Linked DNA regions of Homo sapiens. The protein of the gene in region 4 purifies or fractionates together with the protein of the main gene of each other region. This does not show direct contact. Each region holds a gene or a part of one and is shown on either strand. Other genes may lie near its edges.

What was found.
Region 1: the proteins of CREB3L2 (region 4) and PPP1R3E purify together in Homo sapiens (co-immunoprecipitation; one large-scale study listed by IntAct). This does not show direct contact.
Region 2: the proteins of CREB3L2 (region 4) and SH3PXD2A purify together in Homo sapiens (co-immunoprecipitation; one large-scale study listed by IntAct). This does not show direct contact.
Region 3: the proteins of CREB3L2 (region 4) and KIF1C purify together in Homo sapiens (co-immunoprecipitation; one large-scale study listed by IntAct). This does not show direct contact.
Region 5: the proteins of CREB3L2 (region 4) and R3HDM1 purify together in Homo sapiens (co-immunoprecipitation; one large-scale study listed by IntAct). This does not show direct contact.
Region 6: the proteins of CREB3L2 (region 4) and MAP3K20 purify together in Homo sapiens (co-immunoprecipitation; one large-scale study listed by IntAct). This does not show direct contact.
Region 7: the proteins of CREB3L2 (region 4) and GAN purify together in Homo sapiens (co-immunoprecipitation; one large-scale study listed by IntAct). This does not show direct contact.

What each region holds. Positions count from the first base shown.
Region 1 is NC_000014.9:23,299,660-23,304,524, forward strand, and holds the start of PPP1R3E (protein phosphatase 1 regulatory subunit 3E), read right to left. Parts: upstream 3,201-4,865; 5' UTR 2,918-3,200; coding exon 2,501-2,917; intron 2,200-2,500; coding exon 1,777-2,199; 3' UTR 1,639-1,776; intron 1,206-1,638; 3' UTR 1,099-1,205; intron 1-1,098. UniProt on the Homo sapiens protein: Acts as a glycogen-targeting subunit for PP1. PP1 is involved in glycogen metabolism and contributes to the activation of glycogen synthase leading to an increase in glycogen synthesis.
Region 2 is NC_000010.11:103,596,417-103,600,576, forward strand, and holds part of SH3PXD2A (SH3 and PX domain-containing protein 2A), read right to left. Parts: 3' UTR 1-4,160. UniProt on the Homo sapiens protein: Adapter protein involved in invadopodia and podosome formation, extracellular matrix degradation and invasiveness of some cancer cells. Binds matrix metalloproteinases (ADAMs), NADPH oxidases (NOXs) and phosphoinositides.
Region 3 is NC_000017.11:5,025,228-5,029,363, reverse strand, and holds the end of KIF1C (kinesin-like protein KIF1C), read right to left. Parts: 3' UTR 963-4,136; downstream 1-962. UniProt on the Homo sapiens protein: Motor required for the retrograde transport of Golgi vesicles to the endoplasmic reticulum. Has a microtubule plus end-directed motility.
Region 4 is NC_000007.14:137,883,266-137,887,425, forward strand, and holds part of CREB3L2 (cyclic AMP-responsive element-binding protein 3-like protein 2), read right to left. Parts: intron 2,238-4,160; coding exon 2,138-2,237; intron 1,857-2,137; coding exon 1,730-1,856; intron 1-1,729. UniProt on the Homo sapiens protein: Transcription factor involved in unfolded protein response (UPR).
Region 5 is NC_000002.12:135,533,993-135,538,152, reverse strand, and holds part of R3HDM1 (R3H domain-containing protein 1), read right to left. Parts: intron 1-4,160.
Region 6 is NC_000002.12:173,228,956-173,233,115, forward strand, and holds part of MAP3K20 (mitogen-activated protein kinase kinase kinase 20), read left to right. Parts: intron 1-733; coding exon 734-778; intron 779-3,236; coding exon 3,237-3,267; intron 3,268-3,364; coding exon 3,365-3,504; intron 3,505-4,160. UniProt on the Homo sapiens protein: Stress-activated component of a protein kinase signal transduction cascade that promotes programmed cell death in response to various stress, such as ribosomal stress, osmotic shock and ionizing radiation.
Region 7 is NC_000016.10:81,352,766-81,356,925, reverse strand, and holds part of GAN (gigaxonin), read right to left. Parts: intron 2,522-4,160; coding exon 2,171-2,521; intron 142-2,170; coding exon 1-141. UniProt on the Homo sapiens protein: Probable cytoskeletal component that directly or indirectly plays an important role in neurofilament architecture.

The DNA.
Region 1 (4,865 bases), on a different chromosome or scaffold from region 4:
GAAAAAAGAAAAGAGAAGGAAGAGACACAAGGAAAGAAAGAGAGAAGCAAAGAGGTTAGGAATAGGGTAAGAGAAAAGGAAAAACAGCAACCAGCAGAGGAATCACTCCCCTGTTAAGGTTAACCAGGAGGAGAGGCTTATATAAGGCATGAATGTGAGTGGGTATGAGAGTCCAGCTTTCCCACTGCACTTGCTCTGGTTATGGAGCAGACTGCCATCTTCTGGTGCCATTTACTATTCAAGTTGCTTTGGTGTTTTTTTGTTTTTGTTTTTTTTTTTTTTTTTTTTTTACAACCAAGTGGATTGATTGAAATGCTTTGATTCTTCATTTGAAATGTTTCTATTCCATATACCCATTATCTTTTATCCTCACAAAAGCCCTTAACATTGTTTCCTTTAATCTTTGGGGTTCTTAAGCATCATTTCCACCAACAGAGATGTACCTACCCACAGTTGTCTCAGAGCATGGAGGCTGAAAGTCTGTGAGGACAAGAGTGAAATGGAGCAGAGGATAGGCTGTGGTTTGGAAGCGGCTCTGGAATACGCTGGGGGTGGCGGTGGGGCTGAAGGTTGGTTATGGGATGCTTCCTGGGCTCCGGAACATCTGTGCCAAAAACTGGAGGACCCATCCTCGGCTCCAGCCAGACGCTTGGGGTGCTATGTATTCTGAACCATAGCACTAGGTTGGAAAATTTGGCTCCTAATCTATACTCTGCCATGTACAGATCACAAAATATCATACAAGGAGCCTTAAAAGGTCATCTAACCTAAATCCAGTTTCCCAAGGAGAACACTGGGGCACAAAGAAGTGAGAGGTAACTCGCCCAAAGTTATATAGCTAGTCAGGGACTTCCTCTTCGGAGACAAAGGAAATCAGAATAGTGATTCTTCTGATTCACCGTCCCTCGACAAACAGTCCACAAAGTGCTTGGAGGTTATTAAAAGGCACCCCAGAAAAGTAAGGCTGGCATTTTCCTGGAAGCCCCTGAGTGTACAACCCCTGAGGCTCAGTATTTGGCTATAAAAACAGGTCTGGAGTTGCTTTGGCCTCCGTTTTAATCCCTAAAGCTGCCTGGAGGCTGGAGCTCTGATAGCTACCTGTCATCACTCCCCAGCCAGTCCGCGGACACCGCAGCCAGGAACTGTCAGAGGTGACAAGGGAATCCCGTCATAATGCCAAGGACCAAGGAGCAGTGGCCAGGTTCCTGGGATTAAGCAAGGCAATTATGGCTGAGTTAAAGCTAGGATGGGTAGGACAGGGGGATCTGAGGTGGAAAAGGCCGGTAAGAAGAGGGAATGCGCCAGCAATGTAAATGCCTTCGACTGGGTGGGCTACTTCACATCATACCTCCTCCATCTCCAAAAGGTTCTTAACCTTCTTCAACCGCCTAGGCCTGATGGACCTCCTCCCTTTCTCCCAGAGCCCACTCACTGAAGGGAAGGCCACCATCATCCCCATTCTTTTCCTTTTTTTATAATCCCTCCGGTGCCGTTTCGGGTCTCCTTCCTCCTATATTCTGAGTTCCTTCCACTCACATCCAACCAGCTTTTAACACCCGGATCTCCCGGAGCTTCTTTGGTTCCGCTCACTCCCCCCGCCCCCACGCCCCCACGCCCCCACGCCCCTGATTTCCCCACCCTTTTCGCCCTCCCCGGCTTGACTCCCTTGGACCGCTCCCGCCAATCCTGGTCTCTCCTACTCCTCCCCGCCACATCGGGTCGCCCCGCCCCCGGGTGCCTTTGGTGTTTTCCGCCGTCGGCCGCAGGCGCCTCGTCTCAGATAAAGTGGATCCAGCCCTGCGGCTCCGGAGCTCCGCCACTGCCCGGGTGCTCGGGCCCACGTAGAGCATAGTCACGGCCGCCGTTGTTGTCCCAGAACTCGTGACCTGTCACACGGTAGCGCAAGGCGAAGAGCAGGGCGCCCCCAATCGGCGGCGCGGGCAGGCGGAAGGCGAAGCGGTCGGCGCGCGGCGGGGGCGGGGCCGGACCGGCGTAGGCGGCTGGCGCCTCGCGTTGGCTCCGCCAGCCGTCGGCGCTCCAGCGCACGCTCACGCGCTTCTCGTAGGCCAGGTCCACCACGCGCGCGCTCCCGGCCACGCCCAGCGGGCCCGCCTCGGCGCGTTCCAGGCAGATGCGCTGCGTCAGCAAGCGGGCGGCGAAGCCGGGCTCGCTGGCCGGCTCCAGGGCGGCGCGCGCCTCCTGGGGGAAAGAAGAAGCGGGAGGAGGGAGCCCAGGGCGGAGAGAGGGGAGAGACAGGGGGCGGTGTCAGAGCAAGGCACTGGACCAATCAGAGGCCGACCCCGGCGTCCAGGCCGGCAGAGTGCGGCCCAGCTGCCAGGGTGGCCTAGAGCCACTCGCAGATGGGGTCCCCAAAAGGGATGGGCAGGCGCAAGCCCAGGGATGGGATGGAGATGGGTGCTCTTTGGCAAATCCACTCCCACAAGCCCGCTGCGGCCGACTGGAGGAGGTCCCCAGGAGGGGAGGTGCCCCCGCCGCCTACCTGGAGGCCGCGGGCGCGGGGCTGGCAGGGCGCGAAGTGGCGGAGGGCGTCCCTCTGCAATTGGATCTGCACGTGGCGGGGCACCCGGGGCAGCTCACCGGGACGGAAGCGGCGCACGACAGCCAGCTCCAACCCCAGTGCGTCGGCGAAACGCACTCTCTTGCGGGTGTCTGGGCTACGGCTGCGGGGCGCCCGGGCCCCGCCGCCTCCGGCTGGTGCAGATCGGGCCCGGCGGCCCCGACTCGGTGCGTGAGCGCGGGATCGGGCCCCGAACCGCGTCCCGCCCTCGCCTGGCTCCTCCTCCGGCTCCTCCTCGAGGCTGGGCCGCTGGCTACGGTAGTAGGCGCGCTCCGTTAGCGCGGCGATGAAGCTCAGGTTGCGGGGAATGTCGGTGCCCGGGGGCCGCTCACGGGACATGGCAGCCCCTTCCCCGGCGGGGCCAGCTCGCAGCGCCACCGCGCTCCCCTCTCTTCCTCTCTCCCGCCCGCCCCGCGTCAGCGCAGAAGTCGCTGGGTCCGCTTCTGCAGCCCCTCGCTGCTGTGTATTCTCCTTGCAGACACCTCCAGGATCCTCCACCTCCCGTTGCTTTGCCTCTCCTCTGTGACCACCCTTCCCTCCCTCTGGCCGTCAGCTTCCAGGGTCTTAGACTATCACATCCTGCCTCCTGCTAGCGGTCTGCTCTGAGCGTGCGCTCAACTGCACTCACCCTCCGGTTCCAAGGCCCTCACGGCCCGGGCGCCCCCGCCCACAGCCCTCTGACAGGTGGCTCCGCTTGTCTTCGCTGCTGCACCAGGGGGCGGGGACTCCACCTTTGCGGTCCCGAGTGAAGCTACTCAACCTTTTAAAAAAAACATCCACGGACGGGACGCGATGGCTCACGCCTCAAATCCCAGCACTTTGGGAGGCCGAGGTGGGAGGATCGCTTGAAGCCTGGAGTTCAAGACCAGCCTGGGCGTCATAGTGAGACCCCTGATCTCTACAATAATAATAATAATAAAATGTAAAAAGTCCTCAACTTTTCCGGCACAGCACAGGAAAGGTTAACGCCGGGAAGAAAAAATAACCTTTCATTTTCTTGCAGGGGAAGGTTCAAAACGCCCAGCATGTGACTTTATCTTTGGGGTTCACTGTTTTCTTTTCTGAAACCTAGGCTCCTGGTTTGGGCAGGGGGTGGTGGTGCGTGCAAAGAAGGAAAGGTCATGAAAGCTAGGTAGAGTCTTTCAAATAGAAGGTGAGAATATGGCACCCGAACTGAGAACTGCAGGAAGACCTAGCTTCTAGTGACCTTGAGCAAGCAAGGCATAACTTCTCTGGAGTCAGTGTTCTCGTGTGTGTGTGTGTGTGTGTGTGTGTGTGAGTGTGAGATGGAGTCTCGCTCTGTCGCCCAGGCTGGAGTGCAGTGGCGTGATCTCGGCTCACTGCAACTTCTGCCTCCCCGGTTCAAGCGGTTTTCCTGCCTCAGCCTCCTGAGTAGCTGGGATTACAGGCGTCCACCACCACGCCCGGCTAATTTTTGTATTTTTAGTAGACACGGGGTTTCACCATCTTGGCCAGGCTGGTCTTGAACTCCTGATCTCAGGTGATCTGCCCGCCTCGGCCTCCCAAAGTGCTGGGATTACAGGTGTGAGCCACCCCTGAACTCAGAGCCATACTCTGAACTCAGTGTTCTTATCTGTAAAAAAGTGGTGGAGTTCTGATTTCTAATCCAAGTGTAAGCCCTTTGAGGGCAGGGGCTTTGTCTGATTCATGGTGAGTTTTAGTATATGGTAGGCACTCAAATTATTGAATGAACAAGCACCCAACAACTCTCTTGGAGTTGGGACTGTGGAATTATAGGTCCAGTGGGAGCTTCCAAGAAGGGCAGAGCTGGCTTTTTCCCCTTTCATTTTTTTTTTTTAACATTAGTGAAAAAAAAAAGTGAAGTTGTTTTTAGTTTTTTTCTAACTTTCCTACTGATCTAATATAGCACTTACAATGTGCTAGGTACTGTTGTAAGGGTTTTACAAATACTAACCCATGTAATACAACCATCAGAGGAATAGAGACTATTATGTCTAGTTTAAAGATGAGAGAATTGAGGGAGAGAGGGGAGAGGACTCTTACCCAGGGTCACATAGTTAATAATTGGGGAGGTGGGATTAGGACCTAAACAGTTTAGCTCTAGAGTCCACGCTCTTACCCGCTTGGTTATATAAGATTAAAACATTTAACAATAATAGTTAACATCCTCAGAGTGTTAAAAGAGGGAATATTAGAGTAGAAATGAAGTCTCTAAATTTAAAGCAGCAGGATAGTTTAACTGTAAAACCACAAGTGACTAAGTTGAAAATAAACCATGAGACACATGTTATCTTATTATTATACA
Region 2 (4,160 bases), on a different chromosome or scaffold from region 4:
AATAAAATAATTACAAAAAGAAAAAAAAATGACACATTGCACTCTCCAGCCAGAATGATGTGTGTGAATGACACACTTGCTGCCAGAAGCTGTGAGTCCCTTGGGACCTGCCCATTGCCAAGGACTTGTTCAATGGAGACAGCTTGCCTGGTATTTTTTTTTCTCTAACCCCATGTTATTTAGTTCAAGTGGGAAGTTACCAACACTTGCATACACAGACACACACACACACACACACACACACACACTCTCTCTCTCTCTCTCTCTCTCACAACACATGGCCCTCAAAAAAGTGAGGGAATCTTAATTATTTAGCAATGTGGACAGTTCTCTTCCCAGAGAGCTCTGCTTTGAGATTCTCAAAGACTAAATATCTAGATGGATATACGCCAAGGGAGAGACCCGCACAGGGCACAGTCCCATTCCAGGCACAGAGATCTGTGTCTGTGCAGAAATTCACCAAATAGGGGGTTGAAGTAGCAAGCATACAGTACTGGAGGTGGAGGGAACAAGCCACAGGGACGTCCCTGTCACCTTGAGGGGCAGAGCTCTGAGGCTCCAACCCAGAGGAAACTTCCCATTCTGTTGCTTTCTCTACCGGTGCTGAGGAAGGAGGCCAGATTGGTACCTGTTGTGGGAAGTTTTGTCTGCAGAGAAACTTGAATAGACCCCCCGACTCTTCCCGGAGCAGAATTTGTATGGACTCTCTGGGTGTGGAGCCCAGGCAGGGCTCACTTCTCAGGCTGAAGTCGCTGAGATGAATGGGCAGCCCAGGCTCAGCCCCAGGCCCTGCTGCAGGCTTGTGGGAATTGGTGTCTCACCAGGGTGTGCGCGGCTCAAGGTTCTCACATCCCCCAAAAAGATCTGGTGACTTCTAGGCTTCCTGCCTAGAAACTGAACTGAGGGCACCCAGTTTTAGAAAGATTCAAACATACACCAGAAGGATCACAGCCCAAATATCAGGACACTGGGGTGAGAGAGGGCTGCTGGGAGTCATTTTTAGGCCAGGTCTCTCTGAGCAGCTGGCTGCACCACAACAGAAATCAAAACAAGGAACAGCTCCCGAGGGCCTGCCTCTGCTCCAGGGACTGGGGCCTAGAGGTCAAGGGCCCCATGCCTGAATCCCTTTCTTCTGGGTGGATCTGGCAGGGACCCCTATCATCTTCCCAAAGAAGGGGGAGAGGAGAACGCCACAAGATCAAACTCCACCAACCCACCCACCTGTTCCACAGCTAGGATTCCTTCAGCACCCCGCTCCCTGCCTCTTGCTCTCTGAGCGCCACTGGTATTCCCTCCATTGTCCCCAATGAGCCCTGGCATCCATCTTGGTAATATTGCACTTTTCCTGTCTCTCAGATTGTTTCCATTTTTGATTGAGAATGCAAGGTATTTGGAGGGGTAGGGGAAGTGAGTAACCTTAAAGAAATAATATATTAGTTAAATACAATAACAGGAAAAATAGGGGTTATTTTATCTTTTTCCCCTTATTAAAAACAAGAACTACCAAACCAAGGTCTAAACTTAAATAGTCCTACACCTATTCTGCAAACACTAGTAATAGGAAAATAATGCCTGACTGGAATTCCCTTGTCTTTTTTCCTTAGATGATAAAAGTAGTAACATGCCTTGCTGAGGAAAGCAATGGATATAAATGCCTGTAAAATACGCTGCTCTAACATCTGAAAGTGATTAAAATGATTCTATATAATGCCTTCGTCAAGATGGAAAATCAAGGAGGAAGAAAGAGAAACCTTTGGGGCCAGGCTTAGGGTAGACGGGGCTGAGGCCTGGCAAGACAGCCCGTCTACAGTCATTGGACATAGGGGAAACCCACAGGGCATGGGGCACACCTGCTGCTCAGGGTTGCCCCTTTCCAGCTCTCTCTCACTGCCCCCAAAGTCCCATGGCCTGGTGAGAATAGTGAGGAGGAGAGGGGCAACACAGCCAGGTCTGCTGTCACAAAGAGGGATGAGGTGGGGGGAGATGACATTTTTTTCCCCTTGCAATAAAAGAAAAAGGTCTTGAAACGGAAAGGAAAACAAAGCACCAAATGCTGCATCTTCGGGCATTATATGAACCTCAATAATGACCTCAGAAGGGCTCATTATGGTTAAAGTTGCAGTATACAGCAATACAGTGTCGTTTCACATTTTCAGTCGCAACTCATGGGAAACTAGGTTTGGACACTGCGGAGATTTTGTTTTTCTTTTTCCTTTTTTAGTCCGATCTGGTTTTCCTCCAGATGGGTCAGAGCCCTAGGCCCCCTCCCTCCTCTGCCTGCTGCCGGCAGTATCCTTCAGCATCACAAAGCAGCTCAGTAGCTCAAGGGAAAGGCCCTCTCGCCCTGGCTAGGGCTAGGAGGCCAGGCGCACAAGGCCTGGTACCCCCTGGCCATGTCGGAGAAGGACTGGCATGCACCCTTCTTGCTTCAAGTATTAATATTCTCTTTGGGTTTGCAGGGTTTGTGCTGTGAGTTAGGGGGTGAGGGGGCGAGGTGCGAAGACTGGGGCATGGCAATCCCTGTTCACTGCCCAAATCTACATGCTGTCACCAGATGGCAGCATTCCCCACTTTTCCTGGATGCCTGAGCAACTCCCAGCCATCCTTGGGGCTGGATGTCACAATGTAAACATGACCACACAATAAACTATAATGGCAGTGAGGAGGAGCACGGGATTAATGTAGTGGGGAGATCTGTCATTAACTAGCTGTGGGATTTTGGAAAAGTTGTTTCCTGTCCTTGGGCCGCAGTAACAGGAAGGGATGGGATAGAGACCTCTGAGGTCTCTTTCAGTCCTGCATTTTAATGACTCTATTACTTACAGCACTGGGGGTCAAGGAGAGGGGGTCCTTGGGGGGGGCTGGGAGAATGTGGGGGGCAGTGCAGGTGGTGGGGAAGGGCAGGAAAGGCAGGCTCTCGGGAGCACTGTGGTCCAGTCCAACTGAGATGCTCTGTGCTTGGCAGACATGCTCTGCACTCCCTCCTGGCCTGGCTGGCGCACTAGTGACTGAACTGGCTCAGTGCAGACATCTGAGGAGCGAGGCTGCAGGGCCCTCCCCCTGGAAGATAGCTACATTGAAGGTTCTTTACCTGACAGTCACTCTACTTTTAAATTTTATTTTAAATAGTCATAAATTACTTTTTTTCTCTTAATAAATATGTGCTGTTTAAAAATGAGAAAAGTATATACTGCATCTTTAAGTAATGCACTTTGCTCTCTGGGTTTTTTCCATTCTACCTTATTTAAAGTGCATTAATTAAAAAATAATGAACCACTTCTTTATCATTATTGTTCAAATAAGTACAAATAATATTAACATGAAGACACTAAACCACTACCATTAGTACTGCAATCTAGCAGATTAACTCAACATCCTGCTCTATTTAATACTGTCCAGCAGAAGAAAATAACTAATTTCAATTTTAAACAAACTCACAAAACAAAAGGAAACAAAACAATCTCACCACAGGCCTTCGACAAAGAACACGAGCCATTTGCTCTAGCTGCCAGGCATCAGTGTATGGCGAGGGACAGGGGCTTAGGGTTGCCCAGGCAAGGCCTCTGGGATGGGGTGTGGTGGGGTAGGGTAGGGGTGGGGGTGGGTTTTGAAGGCACTGAGACACTGGGTCCCATGCTGCCCTGCCTGGGTGGGGAGCAGGGTGAGGGAGGGCCTTTCCTCCTCTATAGAAAACACCAACCCCCAGTCCAGGGACCCTGGCAGCTGAATCGGTGGCTGTGAGGCCCAATCTGTCCGAAATCAAAGGCACGTGTGGAAATCCACTCCCAGCGAAGGGGGAGTCCTTGGGGGAAGCCGGCTGGGCTTCTGGAGGGTCCCCTCTGAAATGTCAACAATTGAAAAACACAACCCAAAGGTGACAGAGGACCTACAGGGAACTTTATTCTCTCGCTTCTGTCTTCACTGGGGCACTGACCCTCGGGAAGACCAGGTTGGCTCCTGGCACAGGGATCCTCCATCTTCTTGGGCACCTGTGGCATTGCCAGCAGGCCAGAGGGGGTGGCTGGCGGTGTTGGCTCCAGTCTGACCCAAGGGGCCAGCCGGGTCCCCCCTCTGCCCATAGTGGGGACAATGGCTGCTTCTCCATGCTTCATACGTAAGGCTTCCAGCCCTGCCCAGCTGGGGAACACACGCAGAATGGC
Region 3 (4,136 bases), on a different chromosome or scaffold from region 4:
ACGAGGTTAAGAGATCAAGACCATCCTGGTCAACACGGTAAAACCCCGCCTCTACTAAAAATACAAAAATTAGCCGGACATGGTGGCACGCGCCTGTAATCCCAGCTACTCGGGAGGCTGAGGCAGAAGAATCGCTTGAACCTGGGAGGCAGAGGTTGCAGTCAGCCGAGATTACACCACTGCACTCCAGCCTGGCGACAGAGCAAGGCTCTGTCTCAAAAATAAAATAAAAATAAATTAATAAAATAAAATAAAAGGGAAAAGGTGACTGGCTCACGCCTATAATCCCAGCATTTTGGGAGGCAGACATGGATGGATTGCTTGAGCTCCGAAGTTCCAGATCACCCTGGGCAGCATGACAAAACCCTGCCTCTAGAAAACTACAAAAAATTAGCTGGGCATGGTGGCATGCACCTGCAGTCTCAGCTGCTCAGGAAGCTGAGGTGGGAGGATCACTTGAGCCTGGGAGGTTGAGGCTGTAATAAGCTGTGATGGCACCACTGTACTCCAGCCTGGGCGACAGAGTGAGATTCCTTCTCGAAAATAAATAAAAGTTAAAAAAAAAAAAAAAAAAAAAAGGCCAGGCATGGTGGCTCATGCCTGTAATCCCAATACTTTGGGAGGCTGAGGTGGGCGGATCACTTGAGGTCAGGAGTTCAAGACCAGCCTGGCTAACATGCCAAAACCCCATCTCTACTAAAAATACAAATATTGGTCGGGCATGGTGGCACATGCCTGTAATCCCAGCTACTTGGGAAGCTGAGGCCGGAGAATCGCTTGAACCCGGGAGGCGGAGGTTGCAGCGAGCGGAGATCATGCCACTGCACTCTAGCCTGGGCGACAAGAGCAAAACTCCATCTCAAAAAAAAAAAAAAAAAGGTTGGGGGGAGAACAATTTCAAACCAAACCAAATTTGAAGCTCTGAATATAGAAAGGTATAAATAAGACTGGTGGAGAAAAAATGTATTTGATCCCCAAATTTATTCAAGATACAAAAGTTCCAGGTGACAACAACAACAAAAAACATGTCTAAAAGAATAACCAACATATGTCGGTATGGTGTGAGAAGCTAAAAATAAAATAGTAACCAACAAAAGGAAAGCAGCTCCAAAGAAAGACAATGAAGAAAAGCAAATTAATTTCCAAGAAAACCAAGGATGACAGTGTAGAAATGTCAAGACGGAGTGAGCTAGAAAACTGAGATTGTTTGGGTGACTTCTCATGATTCCAGAGGAGGCCCACGAAATAGCTGCTGTCACTCACAGGACAGCCTGGGCAATTTGAGAGGGAACAGAAACTAGACGCAAGTTCATGAAATGCCTGGGAAGATTGAATTTGAGGAGAAGGCCCCATGGATTCTAAGCGAGGTGATGGTGATGTCTGATGTTCTTTTTATTTTTATATATACATTTTTAAGACAGGGTCTCCTGGTGGTGCAATCACAGGTCACCGCAGCCTTGACCTCCCAGGCTCAAGCGATCCTCCCACCTCAGCCTCCCAAGTAGCTACAGGTGTGAGCCAGTACACCCGGCTAATTTATATATTTTTGTAGAGACAGGGTCTTGTTATGTTGCCCAGGCTGGTCTCAAACTCCTGAGCTCAAACAGTCCTCCCGCCTCCGCCTCCCAAAGTGCTGGGATTACAGACATAAACCACCGCACCCAGCCAATACTTGATGGCCTAGAGGGGTGAGATGGGGTTTGGGCTTTAGTTATGTTGACCTGGGTTGGAATCCTAACTTTGCCACTTAAGAACTGTCTGAATTTGGGCAACTCATTAATCTAAACCAACCTCAGTCTTCAGGAGCCAGGCACGGTGGCACATGCTTGCAGTACCAGCTGCTTGGCTTGGGAGGCAGGATTGCTTGAGCCCAGGAGTTCGAGTTCAGCCTGGGCAACATAGCAAGATCTTGATTCTAAAAAAATAAATAAATAGGCTGGGCGTGGTGGCTCACGCCTGTAATCCCAACATTTTGGGAGGCAGAGGCGGGTGGATCACCTGAGGTCAGGAATTCGAAACCAGCTTGGACAACATAGTGAAACCCTGTCTCTACTAAAGATACAAAAAATTAGCCGGGTGCGGTTGTGGGCGCCTGTAATCCTAGCTACTCAGGAGGCTGAGGCAGGAGAATCGCTTGAACCCAGGAAGCGGAGGTTGTAGTGAGCCAAGATTGTGCCATCGCACTCCAGCCTAGGCAACAGAGCGAGACTCCGTCTCAAAAAATAAATAAATAAAAATAAATAAACAAAACCTCAGTCTTCCCATCTGAAAAATGCAGACAAAAGACCTATTTTACCGGGGTACTTTAAAGACTAAATCAAATGCATATGGAATGCCGGCACAGGTAGCACAGATGAAAAATAAACAGGCACTACTCTGAATAAAATCTAAGTAAAGTTTGCCCACAGTATTATTTTTGATTTTTATTTTTTGTAGAGATGGGGGGGGCAGTCTCACTATGTTGCCCAGGCTGGTCTCAAATTCCTGGCCTCAAGTGATGCTCCCACCCTAATATTCCAAAGTGTTGGGATTACGGGTGTGAGCCACTGTGCCTGGCCCGTGCACATTATTAAAGACTGACTTGGAAGGCTGGATATGTGGATTTTTTTTTTTTTTTTTTTTTGAGAGAGTCCCACTCTTGCCCAGGCCAGAGTGCTGTGGTGCCTTCACAGCTCACCACAGCCTCAATCTCCATGGGCTCAGGTGATCTTCCTACCTCCCTAGTAGCTGGAACTACAGGTACACACCACCACACCCAACTAGTTTTTCTATGTTTTGTAGATACAGGGTTTCACTATGTTGCCCAGGCTGGTCTCGAACTCCTGGACTCAACTGATCCTCCTGCCTCAGCCTCCCAAAGTGCTGGGATTACAGGTGTGAGCTTCTGTGCCCAGCCATAAGTGGATTTTTAAAATTATGGATAATATACATTTACATAAGTCAAGGTCTTTAGGGAAAAATAATCCGTCTTTTAAATTAGCAAGCTATTTTTCTCATCTCAAACCCCACAGCATTCTCGGTAACACTCAACTCAGCTCCCTCTGACCTCCAGAAAACTTGGTATTCTATCATTTTCTTGCTCACATTGAGTCTCCCTGGCCAGATTTTAAACTGCTCAAGCAAACACTGTTGCCAAACCATCCATTACATTCCAGATCTTGAGTCACTGTCAACAGGTCTGTGAAAACCTGGCAGTCAGAGGTGTCAAAGTAAAGGCAGGAGCATCAGGGTGTGGAAACCTAGAGTAAACCTAATCGTTCCTTCGCCCAGAGCCGTGGTTTGGCTGCAGTTGGGATATCTATGGTTTTGGCTGGAGACTGACCCCAGGAAGCTGTGAAGCAGTAGCTCAGAGCTTCAAGTGGGTCAAAGTGTTTTCCTGAGAACAGGATGAAAATGTGGGGACTCCAGAGTCTGGCAAGCCAAAGGCAGTGCTGTAGTACAATCTAACCTGCAAAATCCTGGCAATGTGGCATAGTCAAGGGCTCGCTGCCTCAAGCCAGAACATTAAAACAAGCAGGCAACAAACAGTTTTTTAATTTTTCTTGAAATGGAGTCTCGCTCTGTCGCCCAGGCTGGAGTGCAGTGGCGCAATCTCAGCTCACTGCAAGCTCCGCCTCCCAGGTTCATGCCATTCTCCTGCCTCAGCCTCCTGAGTAGCTGGGACTACAGGCCCCCGCCACCATGCCCGGCTAATTTTTTTATTTTTATTTTTAGTAGAGATGGGGTTTCACCATGATAGCCAGGATGGTCTCGATCTCCTGACCTCGTGATCCACCTGCCTCGGCCTCCCAGTGCTGGCATTACAGGCGTGAACCACTGCGCCTGGCCAACAAACAGTCTTAACACAAATAAAATAACGACTGGGAACAATGATGTAGCCTGCCAGAAGGCAGGTAACACAACCAGGATGAAAACAATCAGGTAAGCGCAGTATGCTTGCCCAACCCATTCACTATCAAGAGAAACTGGCTGCTTGGGAGACCTTTCAAGTAAGTTAGGTGACTTAAAGCAGAACTCCTCTGTACCCCACAAATCCTTCTGTATCTGTCAGCAACAGCCAGTTAAGCATTGACAGGCTGGCGGTCCCTCTACCTCCCCTCGCATCCCCGCTTCTGTGCTTTGTCCATAACAGACAG
Region 4 (4,160 bases):
TTCTGTCATACCTGGCAGAGACACACCTGCCTGGTGAAGACCACAGACGTTTCAAGATGGCAAAATTTTCCCTATCCCAAATCCAGTACAGTAGTCCTCCCTTATCCATGGGGAATACATTTCAAGACCCCCAGTGGACGGCTGAAACCGAAGATAGAACTGAACCCTATATATATGGTATAAGGTATATATGTATGGGAAAAACCATACAGGGTTTATATATGGGCATATAGCATGTAGGGTTCATATGCCTTTTCCTATACATATGTACTTATGATAAAGTTTGATTTAGAAATTAGGCCCAGTAAGAAATTAACAATAATAATAAAATAGAACAATTCTAACCATATCTTCTAATAAAAGTTACATGAATGTGGCCTCTCTCTCTCAAAATTTCTTATGGTGGTGTACTCAGCTATTTTCAGATAACTGCAGGTATTTTTATTGGCTGCAGGTAGTGTTTCTTACTATAGTGTATTCAGCTATTTTAAGGTAACTGCAGGTATGTTCATTGGCTACAGGTAACTGAAAGCTTAGAATACAAAACCTCAGATAAGGGGGGACTACTGTACTGCCTAACCCCATGCTCATTCCTATAGGTGTAGGTGTGAATTTGTGTGTGTATTCCTTACTCACCATCCCTTTATTTCTAGGTGAGAACACCATACGCTTCTTATCTGACACCGGAGTCCCCATATTCTCTAGATCTTGGGCATAAGGTTTTGGAAGGCAGGCTGATTCTTTTTGTTTGTTTGTTTGAGATGGAGTCTTGCTCTGCCGCCCAGGCTGGGGTGCAGTGGCACGATCTCGGCTCACTGCAACCTCCGCCTCCCAGGTTCACGCCACTCTCCTGCCTCAGCCTCCCAAGTAGCTGGGACTATAGGTGCATGCACCACCATGCCCAGCTAATTTTTGTATTTTTAGTAGAGACGGGGTTTCAGCATATTGGCCAGGCTGGTCTTGAACTCCTCACCTTGCTGATTCTTTTTTTTTTTTTTTTTGATGGAGTCTCGCTCTGTCGTCTAGGCTGGAGTGCAGTGGTGCGATCTCGGCTCACTGCAAACTCCGCCTCCCAGGTTCACAATATTCTCCTGCCTCAGCCTCCCCAGTAGCTGGGACTACAGGTACCTGCCACCACGCCCGGCTAATTTTTTTGTATTTTTTAGTGGCGATGGGGTTTCACAGTGTTAGCCAGGATAGTCTCAATCTCCTGACCTCGTGATCTGCCCGCCTCGGCCTCCCAAAGTGCTGGGGTTACAGGCGTGAGCCACCACGCCCGGCCCTGACCTTGCTGTTTATTTAATTTCACTTTACAAGCCCTTACTATATACATTGCATTACATTACTCATACAATTCCACTCAGTGGAGGCAGAAACACAGCAGTTCTCTTAAAACGTCACAGAAAGCGACAGACTCTTTCCCTCATCTGCTTCCCTCTCCCTTATCAGAACTCAAAAATTAGATGTCAGAATGGATCAGGGAACACAGTCTAGAACAGCAGTTTGCAAACTGTGCTCTGTCAAGCTCTGGAGAATTCCCAGTGATGCCGCAGTCCAGTGGATGAGGGGCCCCAGGGGAACCCCCACTTGCCTCTTCAAAGGGAGAAGCTCCACTTTTACCACTTTTTAAACATTGGACTTTCACAGAAGATTCCTTTTGGAAGACTGAGAAACCCAGCTCTAGGGAAATAAAACAAGACCCTGCCCAACTTGCCACATGCTGTCTTACCCACGGAGGCTGTGTAGGGCTCCTGCAGGGAATGCTGGCTGGGCAGAGCCATCTTGGTGGCAGAAGGATAGGGCCCGTAGCCTTGAAAGAAGCTGCCGAATGCAACGGCAAAGCACAGCACCACAACCTGTGGGAGAGAAAGAGGGGAGAGAGAACACGAGGGGCTGTGGACTTCAGCCTCTGGACAGCACAGCTTTATACCCAGGGACACAGACTCTCCTCTTCAGGCCAGTGGACTGCACCCACCAGTCACATCACCAGAGTGCCTCACCGAGGAACAGCCTCAGAGTGGAGTTCCTCCATGTGGTTTCTCCTACAGCACAGCACTTGGCCTTGGCAAGTGGAGGGAGAGGGGAGACAGGGGCCAGGCCAGGGGCGGTCACTGTGCTACCCTGCTGGGAAGCTCACCATGAGGCAGGTGCCAGTCTGCGTGCCAGCTAACTTGCAGGTTCGAGAAACCTTGCCCATCACCAAAGTCTGAAGCTTCTGGAGTTGCTGAAGGAGAGTCCTGCCAATGATAACAACAGCCGTGAGGGGAGTCTGACAGAGAAGAGATGCTTTTTGATCTCTCCATGTGACCCAAGAAGGCCGCCGTGCCTTTGTGCCTGCATTTCAACAGAGCCCCAAGGGACAGTTTCCTCTGGAAGAAGATACGAACACCAGTACCTTCTAGCACCATTGTCACAGAGCTCACTGGGGCTCAGAATCAGCCTTCACACTTGAAAGTCCTGTTCTTGCACTGCCCTGAGTTAGAGGTAACTGCCTCCACATTACCCCTGACAGGCTGTGGCTTGTTTCTCAGCGATTGAGAACAAAGGAAAAGGAACACTCTGATTGGATGGTGGCTAAAGTCAGAATGGTTGTGTCTCTCCTAAATTCCTATGCTAAAACCCAGTCCTCTATGTGACGGTATTAGGATGCAGCACCTTTGGGAGATGATTAAGTCATAAATGGAGCCCTCATTGATGGGATTCGTGCCCTTATAAGGAGCTGAAAAGACTAGAGTGCTTCCCTTCCACTATGAGAGGACACAGCAAGAAGCTGCTTTTTGTGAACCAGAAAGCAGGCCCTCGCCCAACACGGAATCTCCCAACACTTTTATCTTGGACTTCCCAGCCTCCAGAACTGTAAGAGATCAATTTCTGTTGTTTGTAAGTGACCTCGTTTATTACATTTTGTTATAGCAACCTGAACAGACTAAGAAAATGTCGATTAAAAGAAGAACTCATTTAAGCAAGAGATGAGAAACATTGACAAAAACATAAAAAAGGGACAAAGGCAAAGAGAAGGAAAAATAAAAAATGACCAGCAGAGAACAACAGAAGGAGTGGCCAGAGGTGGGGGCTGTGACTGGAAATGCCAACAGAGAGTAACAGGCATTCACAGGCAGGTTAGAAGAGAGAGAGAAAGGCCAGAGGTGGGGGCTGTGACTGGAAATGCCAACACAGAGTAACAGGCATTCACAGGCAGGTTAGAAGAGAGAGAGAGAAAGGAGAGGAAAAACAAGAACGGCTCTGTTTAAGGCAGAGAGGCAAACAGCCACCTGCAGCTCAAGCCTGTGGTTCTTAAACGCTCACAGCACCTCCAGAGTCAGGAAACGAAGCCAACATATGAAAGAACAAAGATGCCTGCTCAACTGGACCCTCAAGCCCAGAGTCAAGGGTCTTTAAAACCATCCTTTGAAACAGATTCTAGCCTTTCTCCAGGAAAAAGACAAGAGAGCAAGAGCAGAAAAAAAAAAAGGAGACGTTTTATCCCTAAAATTGGACAACTGTGCCTCTCCTTAAAAGGCAAAGTTTGAGGGATAAGAACAGTCTTATATACTCTGCTCTGTGTGACATCAGCACACAGAGCAGATGGTAAAATTCTTTGCAAATTCTGAACACTGCAAGGCATAGAAAAGGATCTGACAACACACCCTCCTGAGTTAGAGCACCCGGGAAGAGTTCCCTGTGAGTGGTGTAAAGAGTTGAAGCTCCTCCTCATCCTCATCCCCCACCCCCAAACCCAGTGCATATGGCAAAGTGGAAAGATTTTATGAGCAGATGCTTTCTCTTGGGTCTCAAGGATTCTCGGAAAATGTGTGCTGTGATGTAACAATGTTAGACAGCCACATAAGTTCACTGGAAAACATCATCAAATCATTTGTTCACAGAATGCTGTGGGCTTTCGCAGATAACTTGCTTCTCACCACAGTCTACCCCCGAATAGCATTCAGGTGCTAGAAGGACAAGCAGATTTTTCCTGGGCTTACATCTTCACCCCCAGCTAGTACCAATGAAACAAGTTCTCCCAATTTGAGCAAATTAAGGACAGGTTGGCCACAAGAATGATTTTGCTTTCAGCAGTTTAAATGGATAGGAGTGGTGGGTGAATTGGAGCAGCCCTCAGCACACAGAGTAGATGCTTTCTGGACTCAAAACTCCTTTCT
Region 5 (4,160 bases), on a different chromosome or scaffold from region 4:
CCCAGGAGCAACAGGCCATACATATCATATAACTTAGATATCTATAAGGCTATATACCATGTAGTTTTGTGTAAGCACACTCCATGATGTTGGCACAACAAAACTCTCTAATGACACATTTCTCAGAATTTATCCCTAATGTTAAACAAGGTGTGACTGCAGTTTGTTCCTTTTTTAAGGCAGCATAGTATTCCATGGTATGGATGTATCACAGTTCAATAATTCACGCAGCGAAGGACATTTGGGTTGTTCCCAGTAAAAAACAAACAGATACTCAGTAGTTCTGTATGAAGGAAGCATCTTTCCCAAGAACGTTTTTAAAATGAGAACCCACTGGGTGCGGTGGCTCATGCCTGTAATCCTAGCTACTAGGGAGGCTAAGGCAGGAGAATTGCTTGAGCTCAGAAGGCGGAGGTTGCAGTGAGCCGAGACTGCACCACTGCACTCCACCCTGGGCGACAGAGTGAGACTCTAAGTAAAATAAAATAAAATAAAATAAAATAAAATAAAATAAAATAAAATAAAATAAAATAAAATAAAATAAGGGCTCACTAAAATGAAGGCCTAGGCTGGGCATGGTGGCTCACGCCTGTAATCCCAGCACTTTGGGAGGCTGAGGTGGGCAGATCACTTGAGGTTGGGAGTTCAAGACCACCCTGGCCAATATGGCAAAATCCTGTCTCTACTAAAAATACAAAAATTAGCTGGCATGATGGCTCGTGACTATAGTCCCAGCTACTTGGGGGGGCTGAGGAAGGAGAATCACTTGAACCTGGGAGGTGGAGGTTGCAGTAGGCCGAGATTGCGCCACTGCACTCCAGCCTGGGTGACAGAGCAAGACTTCATCTCAAAAAAAAAAAAAAAAAAAAAAAAAAGACAGACTAATGCTCACTTTAGCTATTGTTTTGTATACATGTTGCATACACGTACAAAGAATTTTGACTTCACAACAGTAAGACTTTTTTTTTTTTTTTTTTTAAATTCCAGAGCTTCTCTCCCCACTGAGGGGCAAGGTAACAAAGTAAATCCACAGTTAAGCTACCTCATACTGTAAGGTGATATTTTACTCTAGTTATGGAACTTCTTTCTTTCTGTCCTAAGAGCAGCAGTCCCCAACCTTTTTGGCACCAGGGACCTGTTTGGTGGAAAATAATTTTTCCCCAGATGGTGCAGGCGGTGAGGAGGATGGTTATGGGATGAAACTGTTCTACCTCAGATCATCAGGCATTAGATTCTCATAAGAAGCACGCAACCCAGATCCCTTGCATGCGCAGTTCACAGTAAGGTTTGCAATCCTATGAGAATCTAATGCCACCGCTGATCTGACAGGAGGCAGAGCTCAGGTGGTGATGTTCACCGGTCCACTGCACACCTCCTGCTGTGTGGCCCAGCTCCTAAGGGTTGGGGACCTCTGCCTTATAGGACAGGTTAGCAAAGTTAATTGTACAACTAACCCACAAAAGTAATTTATATTTGTCTTTCATCAAACTAATGTTGTGACAAGTCAAATTCACTATTTTAAACGCTTAGATCAGACAATATCAAGTTATTCCCTCTCGAGAATGGTCAAGAATAAAAACAAATGTAGTTTATTTTCTCTACCTAATTTCTTTTGCAGATGAAGTTGTTATAGGGAGTTGTAGATAAAAACTTTAGTAAAGCAAACATGATTTAAACATGCTGTGCAATCCACTATTTATGAAATAGGCTGGGTGCAGTGGCTTATGCCTGTAATTCCAGCACTTTGGCAGGCTAAGGCAGGAGGATTGCTTGCGCCCAGGAGGTGGGAGACCAGCCTGGGTAACACAGTAAGAACCTGTCTCTACTAAATTAAAAAATTAGCCATATGCCTGTAGTCCTAGTGACAAGTTTGTAGTCGTAGTTACTTGGGAGCATAAGATGGGAAGCTCCCTTGAGCCTCAGAGTTCAAGGCTGTGGTGAGCTATGATCCTGTCGCTGCACTCCAGTCTGGGTGACAGGGTGAATCCCTGTCTCTTAAAAAAATAAAAAATGAAATAAGGGGGCTCAAAAACCTTACACCTTGCCTAAAGAAGTGAGCTGACAGGTAGAAATTTGGAAAAAACTCACAAATATAAAATTCACAAGGCAAAGAGGGAAAAAAGATCATAAACTATAGGGCTTTCAAAATTCTCAGAAAAGGAAATTAAAGTTAATAGGTGTGTATGGAGACTAAGAATGGGTAAGATGAGGGAAAATAGTAAAGATAAAATCTAGATATAAAAAAACCAAATTGCTGGAAAATAAGGTACAAAACTAGTTTGAGGCCAGGATTTAGTTTCATCTCTATTTCATCCCTCAGCCAATAACTAATTGAATTAAATTCTGGAAATGATATACAGTCATGTTGATGCTAACGTCTCATTAGGTACAAGCAAATGTGTTTAATTATATAACTTCCTTATTTGAGAAGCAAAGTTAACTTGACAAAATTTTGTTTAATTATACGATTTAATTCTTTGCACATGTCCGTATTACTAAACATTATGGGAAGTCTCGGGGATTAAGTGGAAGATGATTTAATTTTTTTTAAAGTTTACAATTATACTGAGAAAAAACTGACTTCCTTCTCTTCACAACAGCCATCTCATATTTATTTATTTATTTATTTATTTATTTATTTATTTATTTATTTTTGAGACAAAGTCTTGCTCTGTCGCCAGGCTGGAGTGCAGTGGTGCAATCTCAGCTCACCGCAACCTCCACCTCCTGAGTTCAAGTGATTGTCCTGCCTCAGCCTCCCGAGTAGCTGGGACTACAGGCACCCGCCAACACGCCCTACTAATTTTTGTATTTTTAGTAGAGATAGGGTTTCACCATACTGGCCAGGCTGGTCTCGAACTGCTGACCTTGTGATCTGCCTGCCTCGGTCTCCGAAAGTGCTGGGATTACAGGTGTGAGCCACCCCGCCTGGCCCTTCATTTTAGTTATCTTAAGTTATAAGAAATAAATTATTATCCCTATATGCAAATGTGGTTATAAAGACAGAGTATTGATTCTGTGGTTTGGTGCTGCAATAGCAATTTGAAAATTACATTACCATTTGTTACCACACCCCCTTGACACACTAATTCCCCAACTTATTTACAATAGAATATGGAAAGTCAATAGTGAAATTTTTTAATTCAAATAGCAATAGTATTTTACAAACCTATCAAGCCTTGTTTATCACTGTAATATTCTCAAGAATGGGAAAAACAAAACTGCTACCAATTTTCACTACTTTATTTCTGAGAAATTAAAACTTAATACTAACTCAAATGGATGTAATTAGGTATATTAAAGTACCAGTTCAAAAAAGAAGAAAAAAAACCCTATTACTTGCAAGGCATGGCAATGCACATCTTCTGCATAATATTTGACAAAGCTTATTTCAAGTTTATATAATTTTCTATTGCTACTGTCATGTAAGACCTCTTTGGAGAAGCACCCATTTGTACCAGGTTCAATGACTTCGGAGGCCCACCATATATATACCTCACCTCGTTATTTTGCATAAGGTGCAGCTTGTCTTGAACCCTGACTGGACATTCCTGTCAGAAAGACTTCATAATATAACTGTCTTCATGCTAACCTTAAATTTGTTTAACTATACAAATTCCAAGAACACTATTATATGTGAAGACTCAGTAAATTTTCAGAAATGCCTCTGAAGAGAAAGGAATAGCACCTCTCACAAGTTGTTTCACAGAAAAGAAACACTCAAGTGTTGATAAATAAGGAGAATTAAAAAGAACAGCAACAAAACTGTAGTCACATATGGTTGTAACAATTTCAAATGATTTGCTTAATCTTAACTCTGTATTAAACAGTTCAAATGTCATCTGGTAGCACAATGAATATGGATAGCAAGTATATAAACTAGAGCTTGAAACATTTAACAGCTAAATAAAATTTAAAAGATATTACAATAGTTAACCACTACATGGAGTACACTAATTTTTATTCCCAATAATCCATTTGAAATGTATTCCACAGACACTTGCATTTTAATTCAAAGTCAAAAAAACTTCCATAAGCTAATCAAAAATAACTAGTCGCAAACTGTGCTTAAGTCACTATATAAATTAATACACCCATGGTACTCTTCAGTAACAGAATGTGTTCTAAGGCTGCAACAACACCCTCAGCATATGAACAAC
Region 6 (4,160 bases), on a different chromosome or scaffold from region 4:
ACTTATAGGACACACAGACTTCTAAAAATTATGTAAGCATTTATTATTTAGATGGCCATGGGGCATATATTGAAGACAGTAAGTAGTTCTTTGGCTCTGAAAATGGTGCAGGCTGAAGTCCTCTGGAGGCATCTTCATTTGTACTTGTGAACCTCACAGGGAGGTATTTTAATCTGTTTTAGTTAGAGCAACTCTGCAGCCTGGGTTTCTTAGGACCGTACCAATTTCCCATGTCCTTCTTCATCCGTGAGTGCTAACATTTGGTTTTTAAAATATTGTGCAAATGAGATCTTTCAACACTTAGAAATTCCCCCTTGAGAACAGGCATAATACATGATCTGGTTACTAAGTGGTTGCTTTGGAATTTTCATTAATAATCCAACAGTCCTCATGTTGGCTGAGACTCTGAGGAAGACTCTAGGTCTCTGAGAAAATGTCAGAAATTGCTTGACTGCTGAGGCTTGATTGTGGGATGTAAAAACCAGGTACCAACAAAGGAATATGATACAGCTCCCAAAGTACATGAATTGTTACTGAGAGATTGGTGAACATTACTGGAGCACTGAGAACTGCCTCTTAAGGTCAGGAAAACTGTTTTCCATTCAACCCAACCTGCAGGAGGAACCAAGCCAGAGCAGCAGCTGAGAGCTGAAAGAGTGAGACAAGAGGATGAACCAAAAAGACAATGATAATATTACTTTTTTTTTTCATTTCATGCATATTTCCCATGCAGCTGCTGCCTTCCTTTGAGATTGGTGCATGGACGGAAGACGATGTGGTAAGCTCTTTGTATTCATGCCTTATTTGACTTGAGCAGGTATTTCATAAATTTTTCCCTAAGTTTTTAGGGGAAGAGATTGGGCCTTAGGAAAGTCTAACTAGGAGAGGTTGACAAATTCTTTTCTCACTCTGTCTCCCAGGCTGGAGTGCAGTGGTGCGATCTCAGCTCACTGCAACCTCCACCTCCTGAGGTTCAAGCGATTCTCCTGCCTCAGCCTCCTGAGTAGCTAAGACTATAGGTTCCCACCAGCATGCCTGGCTAATTTTTGTATTTTTAGTAGAGATGGCGTTTCACCATGTTGGCCAGGCTGGTCTCGAACTCCTGACCTCAAGTGACGTGCCCGCCTCAGCCTCCCAAAGTGCTGGGATTATAGGTGTGAGCCACTGTGCCTGGCCTTTTTTTCTGTTTTTAATGCAATAATGATTGAAAATAAAGCCTCAAGAGTAAAGCAAGTATCTCTGCAAATCTTCTAAGTGGGTTCTACCTTCCTAAATTACTCTGAAACTATTCCAGAATACAATAACAAATACCCATGAGGAAATTAAAGTGGCAGCTCGGGAAAACAAATGAACATACTTGAAAAAAAAGTGATATTAAATCTTTTTACAAGAACAGGGATGGCCTCGAGCCATGGTAGAGGAGGATCTGGTCAAGGCAGTGCTGGGCTGGTACACCGCTGAACCGGCTTTCCTTCCACCTCAGGCCTGTTTGAAAGTGAGGCATCATATTTGCCAGCCTTATTCTGGCCTCCCAAGTGGGAATAGACACAAGCACGCCCAGACATTCTCTGTAGCTTTAGCCAGAGAAGCCCTATGTTTTTGAGAGGCTGCACTCAGACTGTTGAAGTCCAAAAGAAGTCCTGCACTCTGCATTCTTGATAGAAACCCTGAGAAACAATCCAACTTAGTCTGTTACATCACCATATCTATTTTTTTAGTGACAAAACAGGTATGAAAATTCCTGATGTGAAAACTCAGAGACTAGGTTGGGCACGGTGGCCTGTAATCCCAGCACTTTGGGAGGCTGAGGCAGGAGGATCACTTGAGGTCAGGAGTTCGAGACCAGCCTGGCCAACATGGTGAAACCCCATCTCTACTAAAAATACAAAAATCAGCCAGGTGTGGTGGCACATGCCTATAATCCCAGCTACTTGGGAGACTGAGGCAAGAGAATCGCTTGAATATGGAAGGTGGAGGTTGCAGTGAGCTGAGATCACACCACTGTATTCCAGCCTGGGCAACAGAGCAAGGCTTCATCTCAAAAAAAAAATTTTTTTTAAGTTCTATAAAACTCAGGGACTTATGCTATCCAGGTCTATTTAACAAGCTCAGGGTATCACTAAATGAAAATGAAAAAAACAAAAGATGTAATGCCAGCCTTAGTGGGTTTGGGCTCCAGCCCAGGGAACAGACCAGGTGCCACAAAGTGCAGACTAGCTACTGGAAACTCCTCAAAAGATCTGTTTACCTAGCTCAACCTGGTTTTGGGCCCAGGCATTTCCCTCTCTGCCCTTTGTATTCTTTTGAAGTGCACCTGCTTTCAACATTAGCTAACCTCTTTGGCTTCCGTAGGGTAAGGAAACTTGGCACCAGTTGCCACTATTTCTTCCCATTCACTGAGCCCCAGTGAGTCTCACTTTCCTGCCAGCCTTGCTTAACAAGGAAAGAGGACTCAGGGTCTCCTTTATTCACAAGCCTGGATATCATCTCTTTATCCCTAGCTGCAGAGTTTCCCCTGTCATTTGAAAAGAAATTTTTGAAAAATCACTGAGTTCTAACAGCTATTTTTAGTCTTTGCTCTGAGGCTGAGTGGCTTCCAGGCCACTTAAATAAAATTCCAGAGTTGAGGGCTCCCCAGAGAATCACAGGGACTGAGTCTGGCCTCCCATCCTTCTCTCCTCACCAAGGTACTGTGAGAGGCCACCAGTAAACCCAGACCCTGTGATATACAGGGACTAAGGGTCACTGGGTCCAATCTCCTCATTCTACATAGGAAGCTCCACACTTTGACTTGGCTGGGGCCACGTGGCTACTTCATGACCTGGCCTAGAACAAAAGATTCCTTCTGTCTGTTGCTCTGTCCACTGCTGTGTGGTCCCTGGAACTCATACAATTCCTGAGTAAACTGGTGCCCCTCAGCAATCCAGGGGACCACTGGCACATAAATGGAAAAATCACTATAAGTAAGAACCCTCTTGAAAGGATTTAAAAATATCTCCCAAAGAAGGAGGAAAACCAAGGGGCTTTTAACTGTCCAAGACCCCCGAAGAGAGGGATATCTCCCATTTGAAAGCTTGAGGTTTTAAAACTACAAAGAGAAAGTCTTCTATTTTACCTTTGTGGTTGAGCCAGGAATTAAAGTTATTTTGATCTATTGAAAACTCTATGTTTACTGTGAAGACTGGCCACTGACCATGTGTGAATCTTCAAAACCGTATGTGTCCTCTCTTTCACAGTATTGTTGGGTTCAGCAGCTCGTCAGAAAAGGCAAGTGGAATAAGTTACCTTCTTCAATCATGGAGTTAACTTTGTTTTGGATGTGATTTCATCTAATTTTATTCTGCTTTCTAATCACTTCCTTCAGGTGACTCTTCAGCAGAGATGAGTGTATATGCAAGCTTGTTTAAAGAAAACAACATTACAGGGAAGCGGCTGCTGCTGCTGGAGGAAGAAGACCTGAAAGACATGGGCATTGTCTCCAAGGGGCATATCATTCACTTCAAGGTACCTGAGAAAGGGACAACATTCCATCAGCAAACCCTTTTTTTGTTTGTTTGGTTTTTTTTGAGGCAGAGTCTTGCTCTGTTGCCCAGGCTGGAGTGCAAAGGCACAATCTTGGCTCGTTGCACCCTCCGCCTCCTGGGTTCAAGTGATTCTCCTGCCTCAGCCTCCCAAGTAGCTGGGATTACAGAAGCGTGCCACCACACCCAGCTAATTTTTGTATTTTTAGTAGAGATGGGGCTTCACCATGTTTTCCAGGCTGGTCTCCAACTCCTGACCTCAAATGATCCACCTGCCTCAGCCTCCCAAAGTGCTGGGATTACAGGCGTGAGCCACCAGGCCTGGCCTCCATCAACAAATCTTTATTGAGCACCTACTATGCAGCAGATCACGTGTTAGGGGCTGCAGATGGAAACAGTGCTATGCTGGTCATTACTGTGCTGAAATGCTTACACAAGTTGATAATCAGCAGCTGCCCCCAGGCACCCCTATTCCTTCCTCATAATCCAAACAGCAAAAAGGTGCATACATGGTATAGTAGGACTCACAGGGAGATAACCTGAATATCACCCCCCTGCCCTCAGGAAGTCTCTAATCTGGTGGAGAAAACAGATACTGCCTATGCGATAATGGTAAATGACGGCTGTAAGAAATACCAC
Region 7 (4,160 bases), on a different chromosome or scaffold from region 4:
TTGCTGCGGCTGGCTGAGCGGTATATTGCTACACTCTTTGACAATTTCTCGTACTAATGGTTCATTCAGCATCTGTTCCCGTAAATAACTGGAGTCCAACCCTGAAACCCACAGAGCTGACATAACATCCTTCATGTGGACCTGCAGAAGAGGGAAGAAAGATGGGGCGAAAACAATGGAAAATGCAACACATCATTTTTAGAATCTACATTTTCCACCTCATGGAAAACAAACTGTTAACACTCAGGTTATTACCAGGCAAGTGAGACACACTCGTGCTGCTTGAATATCTTCTCCTGGCCCTAACTGTCTACTTCCCAGAGTCTTGATAAGTAAAAGTTTAATTTTTAAAAATCATCAGTTTATTTGAGGTATCACTGTAAAAGTTTCAAGCAGCTTCCTTTACACCTTAAAGGATTCCCATTTCAATAGGAAAAGACAGGAAAAGAACCAGCTATAATTTGCTTTATTTCACACATTTGGATGTGCCATGAGTTAAATCATGTTTATACAAATATTATATACAGTAATAGCTCAATACAATATGGTAAACTTAGACATCAACATTAATAATACAAGAAAAATATACAAAAGCCAAAGTTTAAAAAAAAACCTGAGTACTATATAATCATTTTTGCAGTAATTACTGTTCAAAAATATCTAAGACGACTAATATGAATTTACACTTTTACTGCTCAATCACTAAATTTGAACTGACGAAAGTATTTTATAAATGTAAAATAAAACTGTGAGTTTTAAAAATCAACTGTCTTTACAGCATGAAGTTTAAACTGACCAAAGGACAAAGAACTGCCTCGTTTTCCCAGCAACCAGCCAACCTTAAGCATCTCCCTTGCTTTAAGGCAAGAAGAGGGCAGGACGGAAGCTGGCAAGGAGCAGCATGTCCCACTGTGGTCTTGGTGAGTGGGAGCACATAGGAAATTTTTCTCATTTTTCTATCTCCTTTACCAATTTCCCCAACTAACATGGAAAGCAGAACACTACCTGTCCTTACCTGTCCCAATTAAAACCAATACTACAAATATGGTTTCTAAACATGCATACTTATGGGCTTACAGAATTCAAAAAATTATAAGATAATCATCAAAATTTAACAGTCCAGTTTTAACTTACAAGAACAATTAACAGTAAAATTATACATTGTGAGATCCACTCTCTAACACCTAATATATTTCTTATTTTGAAAACAGTAATTGGAGCTAGTGTCTTATTTATAATAATCAGACTTAAAAATGAAGTCCTGGCTGGGCATGGTGGTTCACACTTGTAATCCCAGCACTTTGGGAAGCTAGAGTGGGAGGATTGCTTGAGCACAGGAGTTTGAGACCAGCCTGGGCAGCACAGCGAGACCCTGTCTCTACAAAAATCAAACAATTAGCTAGGCATGGTGGCACACGCCTGTGGTCCTAGCTACTCGGAGGCTGAGGTGGGAAGATCACTTCAGCCAGGAAGGTTGGGACTGCAGTGAGCTATGATCGTGCCACTCTGGCTACTGCCCTTCAGCCTGGGAGACAGACTGAGACTCTCTGCCCCCTCAAAACCCTCAAGTCCTGTGATTTTGCTCCTTCCTCCAAGGTATTCACAATTTGGATCTAGAGGCTGATATTCTTTAAGACCTTCACTCCCAGAACCTTCCCTCTTGAAACTGCACTGCCACACAAACTCCAGAGCCTGCCTGCTTTCTCCTGCGTGGTGTCAATCACACCTGAAGCTCCTCAGGCCCATGCCCCTCCACCCCTGCCATCGATCCACGTGCCACCCCCCTGCCTGCTGCAGGCACCTGAGGCCTGGCAGAGGTTAGCCTAGTGATATAGTAGGTCAGGATGCTGAGAGCAAGGGTGGGGATACTGCGTTTCTATAATCTCCAGCTTAAGCTTGAAATGCATTTTCCCATTAAAAACAACATACAAAGGATATTACGCTCCTTACAAGGGCTAATATTTTCACTGATATATTGTGTGGCATGGGCTTTTGCAGACTGGTCTGAAAAACCAACTGCTTTCATGATATAGGGGAACATGTTTTACAGGTATCTTTTAGATTGCTGCATCGTAAGTCTTTCATGATGAAGAAGAAAAATAAAACAACTAAAATTTGAATTAAAAAGAAATAAAAAGGCAAATTTGACCATGTTATAAATGACAGGTACCTTTCTTATTTCTGTATCATGTGCTATCCATCGAATTACTGCTTCAAAGACATATCTTTCATTGCCAACGTTTAACTTCTCAAGAGAAATCACTTCTTTAAGCTTTTGAGGACTCAGCTCTAAGAATTCTTCCGTGCTGCTGACGTCTCGGAAATGAGTCTCCAGGTATTCTGTGGCAAGGTAATGAACGTGATGGAGGCAGTAATGTAGTGCAAAGTCACGGATACCAATACAGTTCTCAGCAGCAATGCAGCCTTCCAAAAACTCACAGCACAGGGTTTTAAGGTCCGTCAGTAGCAGCAGGTCAGCTGCCTGAACAACATCTTGGATTGTATCTTCATTTAGCCTGATCTAAAAAAGTAGCATAATTATCTTATATTTGAATGTGTACATTTAAAACCCAAACCACTAACCTATTAATTGGGGCCACATGAAATTTCCATTTATTTTAGATCAAAGATAATCGAATATTGGCAATTTCATATGGTTTAACCCAGCATTTTTTTTTTTTTTTCCAAGAGTTGGAAGGCACCAACATAAGCAAATGTGTGCTTGGTTAACTTTTCCCAGCTCTGCCCTTGCTGTACCAATGTCAACCACCAATAACCCTTTTAGGGTGAACTGTCCATGTTGTTCACTTCTGTAATTCAGAGAAAAACCTTAATGACTCAAATGCTTGGGAAATGGAAAGTTCTACATTCTATGGTAAAGTCAACATGATTAAGTACCAGCATCAGAACTGATGAAAATCTTGCCTCCCCACCTATGAAGTTCACTCTTCCGCTAAATGGCATGCCAACCTGAATGCTAACCCCTTGAAGGGAGAGGGGTTTCCAGTGTTTCAGAAGCCTCATTCCGCATCCCAAAACACTGTACGCAGTGCAATTTGGTACACAGACAGATACACTTAGGTCTCAAAACTACTTTTTGGAATAAATCCCTAATACAAGGGTGTTTTTTTTTTCTCATTATGAACATCTACTTTTCCTTAATTTTCTTCAATTTTCTGACTAATGCTTCTTCCTCCACTGACTTCACAGTGCTCCAAAGCATCAGGAAAGAAACAGTTCTCTAAAATATTGCCACAGTCCTAAGTGGACGACCCCAAAGCATGGGCACTTCACCCACATTCGCAAATGCAAGGGAGACTTCATGAGGAGTATAGCAAGAAACATTTTTACATTTTACACTTTTTGTACCACAGATTTTTAAAAAAGTATAATTGCCAATCATCTTAGAAACTGAGCAACAAAAATGTGGAAAGTAGTATGGTGAGTAAGCCACAAGTAGGGGAAAATGTTCCATTTATATGACATTATATTTAGCCACAAGACAGCAGGCAGCTGTAGACTCTTCAAATATAGGCACGTGAAAAAAACACTCAACTGCATTTCAATAAAACAAAACTGCCAATTCAGGAGTTTGTTATAACTTACATTCCAACTATCGTTTTTTTTTTTTTTTGAGACGGAGTCTCGCTCTGTCGCCCACGCTGGAGTGCAGTGGCGCAATCTCGGCTCACTGCAGGCTCCGCCCCCTGGGGTTCACGCCATTCTCCTGCCTCAGCCTCCCGAGTAGCCGGGACTACAGGCGCCCGCCACCTCGCCCGGCTAATTTTTTGTATTTTTAGTAGAGACGGGGTTTCACCGTGTTAGCCAGGATGGTCTCGATCTCCTGACCTCGTGATCCACCCGCCTCGGCCTCCCAAAGTGCTGGGATTACAGGCGTGAGCCACCGCGCCCGGCCCCAACTATCGTTTTAAATTTAAATTGGGAACAAATCACAGAACTCAATCTGTAAATAATGTTTCAACTTTCAAATCCAAGCCTGAACATGAATAGGCTCTTACTGGCTTATAACTCATTATACTAATAACTGCTGCTGGATTGACTTTACAAGGTGGAGGAGAGGTTGGTCTTAGCCCTGGTTATGTGATGCTACAGAGCATCTCTGGGCTGTCCCCAGATTAACTTAAATTCATTTACTTTTA